Homo sapiens: one gene and its partners. The protein of the gene in region 2 interacts with the protein of the main gene of each other region in a pairwise test. Each region holds a gene or a part of one and is shown on either strand. Other genes may lie near its edges.

Region 1 (7,027 bases), on a different chromosome or scaffold from region 2:
GTTTCCAGCTCTCACCAAACCAACCACTGGATTATGACGGGAATAAATTATAGTCTCAGCCAGGACCCCTGACCCAGGGAAGGAGGGGCCTGTGGGGAAGAGGGTGAGGCCGCCTTCCCTCCTCCAGCCAGTTGGCCAGAATCCGTGAGCAGAGCCAGGAACAGCCCTCCCTCCCACGGCTGGTATCGGGGCTCCCACCAGCTGGACTGAGTCCCACCCTGTTGCAGCTCTCAGTTTCTCCATCTCACTGAGGAGTGGAGGGGGAGATTAGGAGGAGTGTCGCAGAGACTTGGAGGCGGCAAAGGGTCAGCAGGAGACTAACTCTGGAGGCAAATGACCAAAGGGGACCAGCAGAGGTATCTTCCTGCGGCTGTAACCCCTAAGCCTCCAGGCCCCTTCCTCTGGGGCTGGGGTCCCCCTTGGATTACTGTTTCCCAACTTTGTGCCTCCAAGCCTCTGTACCTGCCGTTCTGTCTATTGGAAAAAAATGTCCTTCTCCTGCCCCAGCACTCACTCACCCCTCAGAACTCTGCTCAAGTGGCCCATCACTATCCATCTTCCCCACTGACCCTCCCCAATTTTCCAGGTTTGTACAGTATAGTGAAAGCAGCAAGAGGCTGTAGACCAGAGGTTCTCAATTCAGGGTAATTTTGCCCCCATGGGACATTACGCAACGACTGGAGACATTTTTGATTGTCGAGACTGGGGAAAGCGGGGAGATGCTACTGGCATCTAGGGGGAAGAAACCAGGGATGCTGCTAGACACCCTACAATAACAAGCCCTGCCCCCACAATAAGGGTTATCTGATCCAAAATGTCAATGGTGCTGAGGCTGAGAAACCCCAACACAGACAACAAGATCCTTTGCCAATTGAGCCTAGAGCCTGACCTGGCCCCTGCCCCAGAACCCAATCCCCTGTGGGCACCCTGGGCCTTGTACCCAAGGAAGCTCCAACCTGGCTTAACTCCTGTATTTGCTGGCGCCTGGCCTCAGGATCTCAGAGTATCTTCCCCTGTACCCCCACATCAGCCCTACCCAGCCTCCAGAAGTCAGGTCCTATAGCACACCCCATCTGCACCCCACCAGACATGCCATCAGCTAGTGGCCTCCCGAGAGGACAGAGGGCTCCACCTTCAGGTACCTATTCTGGCAAGACTGGACTTCGAGTTAGGTCAGACCATCATCTGAGGATGGAGAGGCAAAGGGACACATAGTGTCCCTACACCCACCCTCCCCATCTGACCTTTCCAGCCTGTGACACAGCCCCTCTTGCTGCACCCTCTACATAACCCCAGTGCCCATCTCACCAAACGTAGGGTCTGGACCCCAGGAGACACCCAGGACATACACATTTCCTTCCCCTACCCAGGCCAGACCCATCTCTTCCACAGCCTTGTTAGTTCAGCCACCCGTCCAGATGTTCAGTGGGCAGGGTGATGAACAAGAGAGTCACAGGCTCTGCCTTCGAGGAGCTTACAGAGGGTGAACAGACCCACCGAGCTCTTGGCTCAGGATGGCCCAACCAGAACTCATCTGCCCCAATTCCACTCCTCCTCCAGGGTGTCCAGTCTTGGGGACAGCACCACCATGTTGTCAGTCACCAAGCCCGCAAACCCTCCTTAAATGCTCCCTTGTCCTCATCCCACACATCTAACCCATCAATAAGTTTGAATCTGACCTGCCTCCATCCTCACTGCCACTGTGTTAGTAAGACCTCATCACTTCCTGCCTCTTTGGTGGGCTTCCTGCCTTCAATCACTCCCAACCCATCCCGCACACAGACCAGTGCCACCTTTCAGCACATAAAAATGCAAATCTGCACTTTTGTTTGCCACTTTATTTCACAGCAGGCATTCAGACAGTGTTCCGTGAAAGAATGAACGGATGGGCAATGGACAGATCAACACATGGATATTGCTTCTCTGCTTAAGAACCTTCAATGCTGCTGTATTGCCCTCAGGAAAAAGTCTAAAGTCTTTAGCCTGACATCCAAGGCCCATGATGCTGACTCTAAACCAACTTACCAACCTCATTCCCTGCAACTCCAGCCCACCCATTCTGTGCTTCTAACAGACAGAGAGGAGAACAAGGGGACATCAAAGAGATGCAGAGGACATGCCCAGATCCTGCAGGCACCAAGCTCTTTCTACGACAACCTACAGTCGATGGGAACAGTCTTTTCTACAGAAACGTGGCGAATGGAGAAGCAGAAGAAAGATCCTGGTGTAAGTCCCAGGACATCACCCGGAAGCCTATTTCACACCTACAGTAGCTGACGAGCTGTATGTCATTCCCCATCCACCTCTATCATCCACTCCAGCCAGAAACTCAGGCACCATCCTTGACACCTCCCCTCCTTCATGCCCCACATTCAATCCTTCACCACGTCCTGTCTACTCTACCTCCCTAAATAGCACTCACATCCCTTCTCTCCACTTCTGTCACTGCCTCCCTGGTCCAGGCCTCCACAATCTCTCACCAGTGCACACTGGATCATGTCATGCCCCCTGCTGACACCCCCTCTATAGCTCTCCACTGACCCTGCATCAAATCCAAGCTGCTCAGCCTGGTCCATAGGACCCCTGTGCACCCCTGCTCCTGGCCACTCTGTGGGGCACACTCACCGAGTCTTTGCTTCTTCACCCCGGTCACTCTTGCTGGATACTCAGCACCAAGGGCCGGGCACCAGGGCCTCCACTCCTTCCTGGACAGAAAGGAAAGCATGAGAAAACATCAAGAATTTCATCACAACAGCATATGTATTGACACAGAAAGACATTAAAAATTTGCTGTTTATGCAGAAAAAAAAGCAGGTTATGGAAATGTTCATGTAGAACCATCCCCATCTGGTAAAAATGCCCATCTTTTCCCTTCACTCCCTCGCTCATTCATTTTGATACTCCCTAAGCACCTACTATGTGCTGGGCGTCCTTCCAGGCACCAGCCATATAGCTGTGAGCCACACAGACCAAGTCCCTGACCTCAGCAGTAGACTCTGTGGCCCAGCTCCTCAGCATGACCCCAGAGCCAAGCAGAGTCGGCCCCTCCCACCTCTGCAGCCCTACCTGCCCATGCTCTCCTCCTGCCAGAACGGGAACTTCCTCTTCTGATCCTCAAATGTGCCAAATTTCTTCCTGTCTCCCAGCCTTGCCAGTGCTGAATGCCACTGCCTGGCACAGGCTACCCATGCTCTTCTGGCCAACTTACCCTCGGATCTCAAGTCCAGTGGCACTTTCTCAGGGAAGCCTTCCACAATGTCCCAGACTACCTGCCTGGACCTTGGCTTGGAGCCGTGACCACAAACATGACTATTTATATATTTTTACAATTACTGAGTCACTACCATAAGCTTGATAGGAGCATGGACTGTGGCTGCCCAGCTCATTTCCGTATCCCCAGCGCCTGGCTGACAGCTGGCACATAGTAGGTGCTCAGTCAGCATACACTGAATGAGTGGATGAACGCATGAATGAGTTCAAAGAAAACAGCCCAGCCTGGAAGAACACACCCCAACATACATGCCAGTCTTCAAAGAAGCTTCAGAAGCAATATTTATTTTTGACTTTCTCTACTCTATAATTTTTAAAATGAAGGCGTGCCCCTGGATGCCTCCTCCGCTGGCACACATGCAGCGACAGAGCCCAGCCCCTTCCTTCTAGAGCCATTATTGAGTCCCCACCAGCGTGGGTACCATCCTGGGTGGGGGTGGGGGTCAGACACACCCATACCACCTCATCACCACTTCACGGAAGCTCAGCTGTTTGGCCTACTCGACGCAAGCTGCACCTTGCAGCAGGCTTCTCACCTCAAGCCCCCACATGCACAGTGATCCCCACCCCACACCACTCTGCCACCTTGGCTCCTCCTATAACGGACACAAAGAAACCACAGTGGGAGGGTGGTGCGTGGGAATGTCCTCACCGGCCCAAGACTGACCCTCATCATGAAATCAAGGACACACCTCTGCACCTGGGAATTACCCTCAAGTTGCACTAACCACCTCTGCCAATATGGGGGTACTCTCACCGACTGAAGGCCATCCCAACTGACCCAAGATGGCCCTCGCCAGCTTGGCGACCCAGCCTCCACTGCCCCACCTACCTGCACCAGAACCCGCAGCCCTCTCTGCATGCTTCCCTCCCCGCTCCCCAAGCTGAGTTTCCAGCAGCTGCTGCTCCCAGCATACAGGCTGCCCAGCAGGTCTGGCCAGACAAACCAGCTTCCAGGCCCCAAACTTAAAGGCCCATTTGTCTAGAGATGCCCGCAGGGCCTCACAGTATTCAAGTGAGGTTTTTGGCTGCACCATTGTGCAGAGACCCTGGGCAGAGGGGCAGAGTCCAAGGCAGGGAACTGGGTAATGGGAAAGGCCCCCCAAGCTGGCCAGGCGCTGCTGCCACACCCAGCCACAGCAGGGTCTCGTGCTTGGAGACTGAGACAGGCCCTACATGGAGCAGAAGCCACACCTGGAAAGAGGTGTGTACCCAAAGTGGCCAGGGGCCATTTTAGAAGACTAAACATTTGCAAAGACCCTGAGGCACACAGAACAGCATGAGGGCAGGATCCTAGAAAAGCCAAACAGTAACTTTGAACCACGTCAGTCTGGGATCAAACTGACCTCAAAACAACCTATCAGGCAACCAAATAAAGACTCAGATTCACCAACTGCAGCTCCCAGAACCCACTCTACACTCACACTGGGACAGAGCCCAGAACAACCAGGACAACCAGATACACCCCCAGAACAGAGCCAGAGCTGACATCTGGAAGGTTGACTAGAAAGCTACTCAGAAAGGGCCTGAATGGTTCAGGACCCAAGTTAGAAATCACACTGCTGGCCAGTCACAGTGGCTCACCCCTGTAATCCCGGCACTTTGGGAGGCCAAGGCAGGTGGATCACTTGAGCCAGGAGTTCAAGAGCAGCCTGGACAACATGACAAAACCCTGTCTCTAAAAAAATACAAAAATTAGCCAGGTGGGACTACACCTGTAGTCTCAGTTACTCAGGAGGCTGAGGTGGGAGGATCACTTGAGCCCAGGAGGTGGAGGCTGCAGTGAGCCACGACTGCACCACTACACTCCAGCCTGGGCAACAGAGTGAGATTCTGTTTCAAACCAAAGAGAAAAAGAAAGAAATCACACTGCTTGGCACCCAGGAAGGCCTCAGAAGGGGTGAAGTCCACAGTCATGTCCAATATCAAGAAAGAAAGCCCTTGGGGCCAACGCAGGGCTGGCCCCAGTAGGGTTCCCCATCATCTGCCAGGCCTGAAACCTGGCCCGGCAGTGGGTCAGGAGCAAGTCGATGATACCTAGGGGAATGCAGGCACAGCTGCCCTCTGGAGCAACCCCCAGAATGCCCCTGTGGCTGCACCAGGAACAGTCCCCAGAAACAGCAGCTAAAATACTGCTAAGGAGCTAAAACCAGAGTTCTCAGACCTAGAAGTCACGGTCACACAGAGACATGGTGCATCTGGACCACAGAGGCAGATGGTGGCAGAAAGAGCCTCAGTAGAAGCCCAGGGCCCAGGGAGGGTGGGAGGAAATGGAGAACTCAATACCCCAAGGCTGCCCCTTCTCAAAATTCCCTTCCACCTACCCCAAACATGGAGTCTCTTCTGCAGGCCTCACCTCTAGTCTTCTCAAGCCCACCCACCTGAAGGTCAAACACCTGAGCAACACAAACAATCCCATCGATAACAATAGGGGCAGGCACCCCCTTTGTTGAGCTCCTTGACCTGCTAATCTCAGCTCAGAATTGCAGCAACCTTAGGCAGACAGGGACCCTAACCTTAGCAGTCTATCTTCTCATTAAAGGCAACCTCATGTGACCCCTGATGGGAGGGTGGGTTTACACCATCCCAGTTGAGGATGATTACAGTAACTGCAAACACAGACAACAGTACTCACTAGATGCCAAGCCCTGTGCTACACACACTTTATGCATACTATCTTTAATCCTCATAACAACCCTTATAAGGCACGGGTTTTTATTATAATCATTTGACAAATGAGGAAGCGGATTCAGAGAGGTTAAGCCACTTGCTTAAAGTCACGCTGCTAGTAAACAGAGTCCAATCCTAGCAGTATAAAACTCGAGCTCTTCACCACTGTCGGAGGTTACTTTCTCTCGAGGTGCACAGCTCTATGGTCTCTCATACAGCTCTCGCTTCTCTTGGTCCGACCGACATTTCTCTCCCATACCCTCACACCAAAGCCCCTCCTTGATGTGCCTCCCCCACTGAGCCTCCAATGTCCCAAGTACCTCAAGGGCCACATGTCCAACTAAGAGCTTATTCTCTGCCCCTCCTCACCAAGTCCCTAACACAGTGAAGCTTCAGGGCCTTCAGTGAAGGCCCGCTCAACCACTCCGAGGAACCTGGACTCCTTCCTCTTCCTCTCCTTCACTCCCACATCCAATAAATCATTCTGTCCTGACAAGTGTACCTTCAAGATGGCACCATGCTACCACCTATCAAAGCCAGCATCTTCTCTCACCTTACTTACCTGCACCCTCTTGCCCCACTGGGCATCCTGTCTCCATCCTTTTCCCATAGCCACAGAGCATTTTCTGGAAACATAAACCTGACCACAGCACACTCCACCCTCCCTATCCAAGCTTTAAACCTTTGGTGTTTTCTCTCTGGGTTCTCAGAGTAAAATTACAGGTACTTAACAGGGCATTCAATGCCCTCTGTGATCTGCCACATCTCTGAATACTTCACAAGTGACAACACCTCCCAGTCTTTATTCATACTGGTTTTTATCTATCTCAAGTCCTTTCTCTCTTCTTCAAACTCCTACTCATCCCTCCAAACCTAGTTCACATCACTTCTTCTTGGTCTCCTCTGGGACTCACCTCACCCTGACCTCCGAACTCTCCCCCGTCTCTTGATGAACTCTTGCAATGTTCTAACCCAACTCAGAACCGCAGCTGCTTTAGTTGAGCAGATGCCTGAACCTTAGGGGTGGGCTGCCTCTTCTACATAGCTGTTAGTCCCAAAGGAAGAAAGGCAGCCGGGGCCGAAAGCG
Region 2 (7,027 bases):
CAGAGGCCAAGGCAGAAGGATTGCTTGAGCCAGGAGTTCAAGACCAACCTGGGCAACACAGCAAGACCCTGTCTCAAAAAAAAAAATTAATTAAAATTTTAAAACTACAATATTGACACATTTAAAATTTCTTAAATGTCTTAGGTCCTATTTCTTAGGGAGAAATTTGTTTTTTATCTCATTGGTGTTTTGGCAAAGTAAAAATTTTACTGTGACCTTCAGTCAATTTTAGGCCATAAAATAACCTATAACTTTCCTTGCAGTATTTCAAAATAACAATGTGTTGATATTTATTACTGTTTTCCCCTCTGCCTTCACATCTGTTTTATAATTGCACAATGGATAGGATGATACCATTGAAGGCTTGTTTTTGGACTAATTCTTTGCATGTATCATCCTTCATTTTCCCAGTACACGAAGGAGAGTGATTTCAGCATTAGAAGTTGGGATTTGTATAGTTCAAGGATTTTAGTATTTTTAAGGCTTTTTCATCATAGTTTTTAATTCTAGTCACCACACATCTCTAGCCCTAGCATTCTGTAACCAAGGAAACGCCCTACTTTTAGCATGGCACAGTACAAGTGTACCTTTTAAAGAAATATTCCAGGTTGAATACTCTGTGTATTCTGAGATAATATTCAAAAGAAGATCAGTGATCCTAGTGATTCAAAAAAGCCAAATTTTAACACATTAAAATTGCCTGAAAGTCTTAAGTATTTATTTTTAAAAGTCTTTATTTTTCCTAAATGATAAGCTGAAGCTGCCATTGCCATATATGGATGCATATACAGCTTAGGGAAACCAATGACTAAAATAAAATCCAACTGAAAAAATAAAGTTTAAATTTAAAAATTTCTGGCCAGGTACAGTGGCTCATGCCTGTAATCCTAGCACTTTGGGAGGCCAAGGCAGGAAGATTGCTTGAGGCCATGAGTTCAAGACCAGCCTAGGCAACATAGTGAGACCCTGTCTCTACAAAAAAAGTTTAAAAATTAGCCAGGCATGGTGGCATGCACTTTTAGTCCCAGCTACTCAGGAGGCTGAGATAGGAGGATTGCTTGAGCCCAGGAGTTCAAGGATGCAGTGAGCTATGATCATACCACTGCGCTCCAGCCTGGGCAACGGAGCGAGACACTGTCTCTTAAACAAAAAATCTGTGTTGCAAATGTATTTTTCAGGTGAGTTGACTAGCATTTATCTTAAGGAGTATCAACTACACTCAAAGCATTTAGATAGGCCAGTTTAGGTTAAGATACAAAGATGAGTAAGGTGTATCTATTGGGGGAACCAGCCCCCAATATTTCAATGTATGTTCTATTTTCCCTAAATGTCGGCCCATCTGAGAAATAGAGAAAGAGTACAAAAAGAGGAATTCTACAGCTGGGCCTCCAGGGGTGACATCACATATCGGTAGGTCCGTGATGTCCCCTGAGCCACAAAACCAGGAAGTTTTTATTAGGGATTTCAAAAGGGGAGGGAGTGTACAGGGAGTAGGTCACAAAGATCACGTGCTTTACAGGGCAATAAAGATCACAAGGCAAGGGCAAAGCAAAGATCACAAGGCAAAGGGCAAAATTAGAATTACTGATGAGGGTCTATGTTTGGCTGTGCACGTATTATCTTGATAAACACCTTAAACAACAGAAAACAGCGTTCGAGAGCAGAGAACCGGTCTGACCTCAAACTTACCAGGGCGGGATCTTTTCCGCACCCTAATAAGCCTGAGGGTACTGCAGGAGACCAGGGCGTATTTCAGTCCTTATCTCAACCGCATAAGACAGATACTCCCAGAGCGGCCATTTATAGACCTCCCCCCAGGAATGCAATTCCTTCCCCAGGGTATTACTATTTTTTTTTTTATTATACTTTAAGTTTTAGGGTACATGTACACATTGTGCAGGTTAGTTACATATGTATACATGTGCCATGCTGGTGCGCTGCACCCACTAACTCGTCATCTAGCATTAGGTATATCTCCCAATGCTATCCCTCCCCGCTCCCCCCACCCCACCACAGTCCCCAGAGTGTGATATTCCCCTTCCAGTGTCCATGTGATCTCATCGTTCAATTCCCACCTATGAGTGAGAATATGCAGTGTTTGGTTTTTGTTCTTGCGATAGTTTACTGAGAATGATGATTTCCAATTTCATCCATGTCACTACAAAGGACATGAACTCATCATTTTTTATGGCTGCATAGTATTCCATGGTGTATATGTGCCACATTTTCTTAATCCAGTCTATCATTGTTGGACATTTGGGTTGGTTCCAAGTCTTTGCTATTGTGAATAATGCCGCAATAAACATACATGTGCATGTGTCTTTATAGCAGCATGATTTATAGTCATTTGGGTATATACCCAGTAATGGGATGGCTGGGTCAAATGGAATTTCTAGTTCTAGATCCCTGAGGAATCGCCACACTGACTTCCACAATGGTGGAACTAGTTTACAGTCCCACCAACAGTGTAAAAGTGTTCCTATTTCTCCACATCCTCTCCAGCACCTGTTGTTTCCTGACTTTTTAATGATTGCCATTCTAACTGGTGTGAGATGGTATCTCATGTGGTTTTGATTTGCATTTCTCTGATGGCCAGTGATGATGAGCATTTTTTCATGTGTTTTTTGGCTGCATAAATGTCTTCTTTTGAGAAGTGTGTGTTCATGTCCTTCGCCCACTTTTTGATGGGGTTGTTTTTTTCTTGTAAATTTGTTTGAGTTCATTGTAGATTCTGGATATTAGCCCTTTGTCAGATGAGTAGGTTGCGAAAATTTTCTCCCATTTTGTAGGTTGCCTGTTCACTCTGATGGTAGTTTCTTTTGCTGTGCAGAAGCTCTTTAGTTTAATTAGATCCCATTTGTCAATTTTGTCTTTTGTTGCCATTGCTTTTGGTGTTTTGGACATGAAGTCCTTGCCCATGCCTATGTCCTGAATGGTAATGCCTAGGTTTTCTTCTAGGGTTTTTATGGTTTTAGGTCTAACATTTAAATCTTTAATCCATCTTGAATTGATTTTTGTCTAAGGTGTAAGGAAGGGATCCAGTTTCAGCTTTCTACATATGGCTAGCCAGTTTTCCCAGCACCATTTATTAAGTAGGGAATCCTTTCCCCATTGCTTGTTTTTCTCAGGTTTGTCAAAGATCAGATAGTTGTAGATATGCGGCATTATTTCTGAGGGCTCTGTTCTGTTCCAATGATCTATATCTCTGTTTTGGTACCAGTACCATGCTGTTTTGGTTACTGTAGCCTTGTAGTATAGTTTGAAGTCAGGTAGTGTGATGCCTCCAGCTTTGTTCTTTTGGCTTAGGATTGACTTGGCGATGCGGGCTCTTTCTTGGTTCCATATGAACTTTAAAGTAGTTTTTTCCAATTCTGTGAAGAAAGTCATTGGTAGCTTTATGGGGATGGCATTGAATCTGTAAATTACCTTGGGTAGTATGGCCATTTTCACGATATTGATTCTTCCTACCCATGAGCATGGAATGTTCTTCCATTTGTTTGTATCCTCTTTTATTTCCTTGAGCAGTGGTTTGTAGTTCTCCTTGAAGAGGTCCTTCACATCCCTTGTAAGTTGGATTCCTAGGTATTTTATTCTCTTTGAAGCAATTGTGAATAGGAATTCACTCATGATTTGGCTCTCTGTTTGTCTGTTGTTGGTGTATAAGAATGCTTGTGATTTTTGTACATTGATTTTGTATTCCCCAGGGTATTATTAATATTCCTTGCTGAGAAAAGAATTCAGTGATATCTCTCCTACTTGCACATCCGTTTATAGGCTCTCTGCAAGAAGAAGAATATGGCTCTATTCTGCCTGACCCTGCAGGCAGTCAGACCTTTGGTTGTCTTCTCTTGTTCTGTAAAATCACTGTTATTCTGTTTGTTTTCAAGGTGCACTGATTTCATATTGTTCAAACACCCATGTTTTACAATCAGACTTCATATTTTTCAAGCACACATGTTCTACAATCAGTTTGTACAATAGTGATCCTGAGGTGATGTACATTCTCAGCTTACAAAGATAACAGGATTAAGAGATTAAAGTAAAGACAGGCATAAGAAATTATGAGTATTATTTGGGAACTGATAAATGTCCATGAAATCTTCACAATTTATGTTTTTCTGCCACGGTGCCAGCCAGTCCCACCATTTGGGGTCCCTGACTTCCCACAACATATATCTGCTCAGGAGATAGATGGAGACAGATATGGAGGCAAATATAAGCTCTTCAGTGAAATAAGTGTTATAATGAAAGAATACTTAAAGATATTAGAAGTATAATAAAAAGTGTTGATGTGGGGGTGGAGTTTCCTATGAAGATCAGTTTTAAAAATGTAATTGGGATGTAAATTCTGTCTCTAAAATACCTTATGTTATGTTTAGCCATCAGAAAGGTTCAAGGTTATTTTTTTCTTTTAACTTTTATTATGAACATTTTGAAATGTATTCAGAAATAGCATTTAGTAAACCACCATGTACCCATCACTCAAGAAAGCTTTAAATCAATGAAAACCTGAAGCCCTTTTTAAAAACACGACTTTATTTATTTATTTATTTAATTTTTATAGACAGGGTCTCACTCTGTTGCCCAGACTGGAGTGCAGTGGCACAGTCATAGCTTACTGTAACCTTGAACTCCTGGCCTCAAGCAATCTTCCTGCCTTGGCCTCCCAAAGCACTGGGATTACAAGTGTAAGCCACCATGCCCAGCCCTATTTTATAGTATTTTATAGCTTGCCCTTTAAACATGAGCATGATATCTAGAGTAATAGTGGAGTGATACTAGTTGCTTTCAGAGCTGAGTATCAATTTGTTTAGATGCTGCAAGACATCCTGAAAAATTTGGCAATTTCAAATGGAAATATGAAATAAAGCTTTTTTGTATATTTAAATGAACTGTCAAGATAGTTTACTTTGAAGATTTGAGTTTCAAAAATGTATTATCTAAATCATGCATTTTCTTAGTTTTTTTTTTTTTTTTTTTTTTTTTTTTTTGAGACAGAGTCTCGCTCTATTGCCCAGGCTGGAGTGCAGTGTTGCAATCTTGGCTCACTGCAAGTTCCGCCTCCCAGGTTCACGCCATTCTCCTGCCTCAGCCTCCTGAGTAGCTGTGACTACAGGCGCCTGCCACTGCACCTGGCTAATTTTTTTTTGTATTTTTTAGTAGAGACGGGGTTTCATGGTGTTAGCCAGGATGGTCTCGATCTCCTGACCTTGTGATCCGCCCATCTCGGCCTCCCAAAGTGCTGGGATTACAGGCGTGAGCCACCGCACCTGGCCCTCTTAGTTTCTTATAATTCTTTATAATGGACTGCTTATACCAGAGCTCCTATTTTATCTCAAAGTTTGATTATTTTGTTCACGTTGTTCTTTAGATGCTATTAAACTACAGCTGGTTGAAGCAGGCCTAGTAGAGTGTCTACTAGAGATTGTTCAGCAAAAAGTGGATAGTGACAAAGAAGATGATATTACTGAGCTCAAAACTGGTTCAGATCTCATGGTTTTATTACTTCTTGGAGGTGAGTTGTAATTTATGCCAGCCAAAGAATGTGGTTGTCAGATGTTTTTAAAATTTATTGTCTCTTCTGTAAATACTACCCTAGACATTTTCTCATATTCCTATCTCACCTGCTATTGAGGTGATGATTTTGACATCTTAAACATGCCATTGATACAACCAGACATAATGAACCTGAAAAAGAAGTGTCTTCACTATCTTCCAGTATTTGAAGAGCTGTCACATAGAAGAGATAGCTTTGGCACCAAGGGACTAAAGAAAAGCTAGATGGCTCCCTGGGACTTGGACTAGAAAAAATGCTAGACTCTATTGTCTAGTATCTATTAAATGTTTATTATAAAAAGAATCATTACTTTTCCCATTATGAATGTAACAGTTTGTGAGGTGTGAGTTTCCAGTTGGATATTCACCTAAGAATGTGAATTTGTTACTCCTAGTTATTTTTCTCTTGCTTAACTATTCGTTTCATTTACCTCCAGATGAATCCATGCAGAAGTTATTTGAAGGAGGAAAAGGTAGTGTATTTCAAAGGGTACTCTCTTGGATCCCATCAAATAACCACCAGCTACAGCTTGCTGGAGCATTGGCAATTGCAAATTTTGCCAGAAATGGTAAGCATATTAGTTCCTCCTTTGTTAGTCAAATACTCTATATTTGTTTATTTTTGCTTTGCTACCACATATACTAAAACTGGAACAGTTTAGAAGTTGTGTAATATGTGTATATGCTGCTAACTTAATTTTTCAGAAATCTGAAATACTTAGTGACATTCCTAACAAATTACATATTTTATGCAATTCAACTAAATTCTAATAGTTTAAATATCATGAAGTGCTTCTTTTGAATACTTGGCACTTCAGAGCTTAGTAAGTTTGAATCCCATTCTAGTATACATCTGCTTTCTTTTGCCTAGTGATTTTATTTTGGATCTAATTATCTGAGTATTCATTCTAGGATTATTGTGCCTCAACTTATATACTTTTATGCCCATAAAACTTAAGTATGAATAATCCCCTGGCATCGTGTAGAATGTTTAATTTAGTTTAATAATGTTTCAGGGGGCGCCAGACTTCTATGTTTATGAAATCTGGCACTACCAAAAAACTCAAATACAGTCTAGAAACTCATTCTTACGTTCCTCATGAAATATACCGTGTCTAGGAAATACAGTTTATTTTTCTTTTTAGTTTAATCATCTTCCAGTACAAACTGTTGGTATATATTATATCATAATGGCTTACTTGCTCCATTTTTACTCCTTCTTTTTGGGAGTGACTTCCTAATTATGGAGGTAAGAGTGGCATAATATGGATAATTATTGAAACTAGATATGGGGTAAATAGTGGTTCATTATAATATTCTCTCCGCTTTGTAAGTGTTTGAAAAATAATTTAGGTATCAGCCATGATAGCAAAAGGTAGAGTACTATCACTGTAACATTGGGAGAACACAAGCATACATCACAATAAATGAAAAATATTGGACATTCTAACCATGTGTTTCTACTTCTGAT
Region 3 (6,766 bases), on a different chromosome or scaffold from region 2:
TCACACAGCTCTTGGACTTCTCAGTTATGTGGCTTAACCTTTTCCCTTTGGCTTAAATCAGTTTGAACAGGGAGTTTCTATCTGACAGCCCCAAGAAGCCTGATGCAGGATGATGGTGTTTCCTTTCCTGACCACCTGGTTTTCTATGAGAACAATTCATTGATTCAACTCTAGAAGGATGGGAACCTACTGGAAAAGACTCCAACATGAACAGGATTCTCAGAAAGCAGGCAGGACCTGGCTTGGATCATCCATCAGCTCAGACAACAGAGACTCCAAGGCAGTCCCTCCTCTTGAGCCCTCAGGAATGGTCAACTTCAACCAGCTACCTTAAGTGTAGGGAAAACAAAATCCAGAAAGGTTAAGTGACTTGCCCCAAATGACTCAGCTAATATGCTGTCACCAGTTCCAACTGATCTCAGAATCCACACTCTTTTTCACTAGACCAGTGAAGGCACTAGTAGCTGCTGGATCATGGAGAGGGAAACAGGGCCTTCTGGGGGAACAAAGCAAGCCACAGTTACTGCTAGAGCCAACCAAATCTTTATTAGTCTCGGCAGCAGAACTAATGGAGCCCCCATTTACAGGGGAGCTTTAGTGGGCTAGTCTGGCTACCAGGCAGGGATGTTAGCATTTCTATTGGTGATTGGGATAGAAAGGGGGAAGAGACTGGAAGGGAACCAAAGGGGGAGACTGGTGGACCACCTGAGGGCAGGCACAGATGGGGCTTCCTGGGCTGGTGTAGAGGTGGATCAGGCCCCAGAGGAGAACACTGCCATCTTATTCAGAATGAAGGATGAGACAAAGCCTGAGAGGGTGACAGTCACAGCTACAAAGAGAGGGCCGAGCTCCTGGTGTGAGAGGCATTTCTGGACGGAGGCAGCTTTCTAGGGCTGGAAGTCTCAAATAGAACTCACCTGTTCCCCAACCAGGGGTCCCCAGGTTCAGCTCAATTGTTATCATGGGTACCAGCCAGGAAGCTGTTTGTGGGAAGGATGGGACTTGACTCAGGAGTGTTTTAGGTATGGACATGTGTCAGTATTCACAAAACAGGCAATATATTCATTATAGATGCAATCATGAAACTTCCCTCCAGAGAAGGCTCACATCTCCCCTTTCACCTAGGAAGCTCCTTAGCTTGAAGGCCCACCACGGTCTGATCCCAGCCTCCACCCCAGCCCAAATGAACTCCCATTTAATTCCTTGGACATGCCATGACGTTCACGGCTCTGCATACTTGCCAATAACTGTTCTTCCAGCCTACCTGTCTTGCTCCCTGCCCCACCTGTCCTTGTCAAAGGACTGATAACTCTTCAGCTTTGTCAAGTCCTTGTTTACTCCTGTTCTCCCCACCAGGACTCGAGCTCCCTAAGGAGAGAGCAGAGAGCCCGATTCATGTTGTGTCTACAGCGCCTGGGGAACTCGAAGCCAAATGAAGTCGTATTTGCTGTGCCCTGTTGTGTTTAGAGGAAATGTATCCATAAATGTCTATAACAGATTTTGGGGGTGTCTAGTGGTAGATGTGAAGACTTCAAGCGATGTTTGTACCTGTGATGATAGCTTCTTCCCATGTGGGGATTAAGGGTAGGGAGTGGGGGGAATGGTCCAAACCCGGAAGGAGCTAATGGAGAGGATAGGGCCAAAGTGGGACAGGGCTTGGATGGTAGAGGATGGGGTCCAGGAGGAAGAGGAGTCTAGCAATCCAAGCGCAGGGGTCAGTGCTCCGAGTCCCAGGGCTCAGAACCAGCAGGGCGACCACATGAGCGAGCCCAGCGCCGCCCCAGTGGCGGCTCCCGCAAGCATGCCCATGGCCAGAGGGGCGCCGGCGCTGTAGCAGGGATCCTCCCGCACTATCACGTGCGTCACGCCAGGGCCTGCAGAGGGAGACAGCCCATGAGGATCAGCGACTTAGGAGGGAGTAGAGTGATCTTCGTACCCTTCCTGCATCACTCCAGCCCAACCCAGTGTAAGGCGCCGAACCCACTCTCCTGCTCCCCAGTCAAAGAACAGATCTAGACGCGGGAAGAGCTCCACCCTACGGCTCCCAGGCCTTGGATCGGCTACGGATGTCCCGGAACCTACGGGTCCGCTACGGCAGGCTAGGGCGGAGCAGCGAGGAAACCCTGAGATCGCTAAGCACAACCACCAGGCGCCTAACGATGGGCATTCCCAACCGCCAGGCCCCAGAGCGGGGAGGAGGCAGCATTCCCGCAGTAGCCACCAGGGGCCGCTACCGGCTCAGGAATGGGTATTGCCGACCGCAGGGCTGAGGAGCCATCCCAGAAGGGTGAGGTCAGCTCGAGACGAACGCTGGTTCCAGAGCTCTCCCAGTCTCAGGATGGAGAGGGGCTTGCGGAGAGTTCTGCCTGGGAAAATCCGTGCACGCTAAAAGGATGAAGCCTGGTCCGGACTTACGGACCGTGGGCTGGGCCTGGCGCTGAATCGGTGCTGGATCGAGGCAAGCCCCGGGGCACGCTGGAGACTTACCTGCGTAGGGCGGTCCGTAGTAGCTGCGGACATACGTGGCCTCGTGTGCATTGGGGGGCACCACCTCGTAGTAGTCTTGGTACGGGCTGTAGACGCGCACCTGGGGAATCCAACCATGTCAGGTGCCCAGGAACTCCCTGGCCCGGATTTGGTCCCCTACCCCCACGCCTGGCACAGGCCTCTCTGGGATCCATGGAGCCACCTCCCCAAGTTTAGAAATGGGCCTCCAGCCACTAGCAAGCTCTTGGAGAAAGGCCCTGCCCTCCCCACAAGGTCCACGGTCCTCTAAAACTTCTGCCCTACATCCAGCTCCCAGTGACACCCATTCTCCAACTCTGGCCTCCCACCTAGCTCAAAAAATTCTCTATGGCTCCCAATTTCTCCTTATAGGTAGTCTAATATTTGCTAGCAGCTCTACAATAATGCCACTTGAAAGACCCAGCTCTACTAGTCACAAGGAGGGGAACATGGCCAAGCCCCAGGCCCAGGAAATAAACAGGGGTTGGGGAGGAAGGAAGGGAAAGGAAGGATAGGGATGAGAAGTAACTAAAATACAGTTATGCGTCTTTTAAACAACAGGGATACAGTCTGAGAAATGCGTCCTTAGGCAATTTTAGTTATGTGAATATCATAGAGTGTACTTACAAACAAACCTAGGTGGCACACACCTAGAGTATATGGTATATCCTATTGCTCCAAGCCAACAAACCTGTTCAGCAGGCTACTGCCCTGAATACTGTAGGCAATTGTAACACAATGGTATTTGTTATCTAACTAATCATATATAAATGTAGAAAATGTAATGCATTGCCCTACGACATTATCATGGCTACAACATCACTAGGTGATAGGAAATTTTCAGCTCCATTATAATCTTATGGAACCACCTTTGTATATGTGGTCCATCATTGACCCAAAATTGTTAGGCTGCACTAGGCTGTAACGATTATTGAGCACCTACTATGTACCAGGTCCTGAAGGAAGTGATCACGTGTGTTACACCACCTCTAATCCTTAAAGCAGGTATTAGCTCCACATGACCATAGGGTTGGGGACTGAGGCTCAGAGAATGGTCAGTGTTCTCTCTGGAATGCATTCCCTGCCCTCCCCTCTCTCCCATTAGATTTCTGCCAACCCTTCAAAGCCTAGCTCAACGGTCACCCACTCCACTCCAGGAAGCTCTCCTGGTCTCAGGAAGAATTTTTTTTTTCCCTGAATTCTGTGGATCTTGCTTGTGCCTCTTGTTGCTATCCTTTCTCCTGGCCTTTCTTGCAGCCCAAATGTGAGCTGCTTGTAGACAAGGACTCTGATTTGTTTGTGTCACCAGCAGGGCCAAGTGCATACCAGGAACCAAGAACTATGTGCTGAATTAAATGGAAACTCCAAACCCCTCATTTTACCCATGGGGGAGCAGACCTGGAGAGGGGTCAGGATCCCCTTCTCTTCTGGATCTTTCCTCTTAGCCCCATTCCACCCTGTATCTCTCTCTAACTGGGATTCACACCTGAACAGTCCAGCTCCCCTTAGAAGTCCAGGTGTCTCAAACTCCACTCATCTCAAGATGATTGCAACATTTCTCCATCTGCTAAAACTGTTGCTTTTCCCATAAATCTTTTTTTTTTTTTTGAGACAGAGTTTCATTCTTGTTGTCCAGGCTGGAGTGCAATGGCATGGTATCAGCTCACTGCAACCTCCGCCTCCCGGGTTCAAGCGATTCTCCTGCCTCAGCCTCCCAGGTAACTGAGATTACAGGTTCCTGCCACCACGCCTGGCTAATTTTTCTGTATTTTTAGTAGAGACAGGGTTTCACCATGTTCGCCAGGCTGGTCTTGAACTCCTGACCTCAGGTGATCTGCCCGCCTTGGCCTCCCAAAGTACCCAGCCCCATAAATGCTTCTCTCAGTACATGCCATCACCATGCACTCAAATCAAGAAAGGCTAGGCACAGCGGCTTATGCCTGTAATCCCAGCACTTTGGGAGGCTGAGGCGGGAGGATTGCTTGAATGCAGGAGTTCAAGACCAGTCTGGGCAACATGGCAAGAACCTGTCTCTACAAAAAATTAAAAAATTAGCTGAGTGTGGTGATGCATGCCCGTGGGCCCAGCTATTTGGGAAACTGAGGCAGAAGGATCACTTGAGCCCAGGAGATCGAGGCTGCAGTGAGCAGTGTTTGCACCACTGCACTCCAGCCTGGGCAACAGAGGGAGATCCTGTCTCAAAAAAAGAAAGAAAGAAAGAAAAAGAAAGAAGGAAAGAAAGCAGGTTGTTGCCCTTGTCTTCACACATCTGCTTTCCACACATCAGCCACCAGGTCTCGTGATTTTATCTTCTAAATGTGTTCTTCTGCCCATTCTTTTGGCCAATTCCAAGATAATAGGCCACTGGTTTTAGCAACTTGGAAGTTGTGAGTGACCTTGAAAAAACTTTTCAGAGGAGTTGCTGAGTAGGAAAAGCCAAGCTATGGAGGGTTGAAGAAAGGCTGAGAGGTGAAGGATGCAATCCCCATGTCATGACATCTCTTTCAAGAAGTTTGGTGGTAAGGGGAAGGTCTCCAAGCACACCTTGTGATTTCAAATCTCCATGCCATTTTCCTTTGCTAGGGATATGCTTCTCACCTCATTCAACCTGTCTTTCAGACTCAACTCAAGCATCACTCTCCCTGAACCTCAGGTTCTGTTGGGGTCCCATCTGGACACTCACAGCCCTTGGATGTCCCTGCATCACAGCACCGATCATGCTGTCTTCACGTTGTTTCCCTGTGTCTCTCCCATCAGACTTGGAGATGCCTTTGAGGGCAGAGACTGGGTCTAATCAGATCTGACTGGAACATGGCAGGTACCTAATAAATGTTTATTGAATTCATTCCAGTGAATCAAATACAGGGCCAGACTGGAACTAAGGTTGCCCAACTCTGAGTTCAGTTTCAAGTCAGGGAAAACATATAGTCCCAAGACAATGCAAGAGGCTCAGACAAGCAATGTCGTAAGTCAGTGAACTCTACGGTGCTCCCTCCCCATCAGTGATCCAATAGGGATTTCTGGTAGGCAGTGCCAAGATCCAGGCTCCAGGCCCAAAAGGGGTTGGAGGGATCTAAGCTCTCAGGTCCAATTTTATTGGTGGGGAAGTTGAGGTCCACAGCCTCCACCTTGCCCTGCTGCTACACAGTGAGCCAGTGGCCTTGGGAGGCCCTGGAGAGGGTGGAGCACCCCATATCCCTCGAGGGCACCTGTTTTTACTCTCCACGTCTGGGAGGCCCAGAAGTAAACTCCTATAAGTCACCTGGCAACAAATAGGGACAGCCCAGAGACCCATGGGCAGAACCTGAGGGTTTGAACCTGCCTCTCCCTCTCCAGAGGCCCAGCTACTTTGTGGGTACAACCAGTGTTGACCAATCAGGGGGTCACATGCAAATGACTCCCCTTAGCTGAGCTGTTGTGTTATTAGGTTTACAGTCTGTTAAATCCTAGTTTTTGACATCCCCACTTTAAACAAACTTGCATCCTAGTTTGGGCATGGAAAATACCTCAGAACGATGGGCTGGGAGTCCCAGACCTGCCATTGATGAGTTGAGTGACCCTGATCAAGTTAGGTAACCTCTCCAAGCCACTGAGGATCTAACAGTGCCACATCTATACAATTTGGTGGCCCAGGCACTTCTAGGCTTAGTGATTCTGCACATCAGAGTCATCAGGAGACAATTTTTTTTTTTGAGATGGAGTCTTACTCTGTTGCCCAGGCTGGAGTGCAGTGGGGTGATCTTGGTTCACTGCAACCACGTCCGCCTCCTGAGTTCAAGCCATTCTCCTGCCTCAGCCTCCTGAGTATCTGAGATTACACCATGTCTTGCTAATTTTTGTACTTTTAGTAGAGATGGGGTTTCACCATGTTGGCTAGGCAGGTCTTGAACTCCTGACCTTGCAACCTGCCCGCCTCAGCCTCCCAAAGTTCTGGGATTATAGGTGTCAGCCACCAGGCCTGGCCAGGAGACAGGTTTAAACTACAGGTTTCCTAGGCCTAGGCCCCATGCCAGATTAAAACATCCAGAGGTGGAACATGAATACTTGTTATTAGTGCTTGTAAGTTCCTAAACAATCCTGATACATAGCCACACTGAGCACCACTGTGTAAGATGAGCTCAGAGTTGACTATAAGATCACAGGTACTCTCACTCAAGCCCCCTCCTGCCACCCACCCCATGCCAGGCCCTGTGCTGAGTTCTGGGGACAGAGAAAAGATTCAGGCCAGATCCTGCCTTCAAGAAACATTGAGGGTGAGGGG

The links.
Region 1: the proteins of RAP1GDS1 (region 2) and PTPRF interact in a two-hybrid assay, tested with the Homo sapiens proteins (one study listed by BioGRID).
Region 3: the proteins of RAP1GDS1 (region 2) and PLEKHB1 interact in binary tests that used the Homo sapiens proteins (3 or more experiments, as listed by UniProt).

The regions. Positions count from the first base shown.
Region 1 is NC_000001.11:43,533,876-43,540,902, reverse strand, and holds part of PTPRF (receptor-type tyrosine-protein phosphatase F isoform 1 precursor), read right to left. Parts: intron 2,706-7,027; 5' UTR 2,626-2,705; intron 1-2,625. UniProt on the Homo sapiens protein: Possible cell adhesion receptor. It possesses an intrinsic protein tyrosine phosphatase activity (PTPase) and dephosphorylates EPHA2 regulating its activity.
Region 2 is NC_000004.12:98,411,374-98,418,400, forward strand, and holds part of RAP1GDS1 (rap1 GTPase-GDP dissociation stimulator 1), read left to right. Parts: intron 1-5,371; coding exon 5,372-5,515; intron 5,516-5,993; coding exon 5,994-6,125; intron 6,126-7,027. UniProt on the Homo sapiens protein: Acts as a GEF (guanine nucleotide exchange factor) for the Rho family of small GTP-binding proteins (G proteins) that stimulates the dissociation of GDP to enable subsequent binding of GTP.
Region 3 is NC_000011.10:73,656,574-73,663,339, reverse strand, and holds the end of PLEKHB1 (pleckstrin homology domain-containing family B member 1), read right to left. Parts: intron 2,588-6,766; coding exon 2,488-2,587; intron 1,875-2,487; coding exon 1,738-1,874; 3' UTR 521-1,737; downstream 1-520.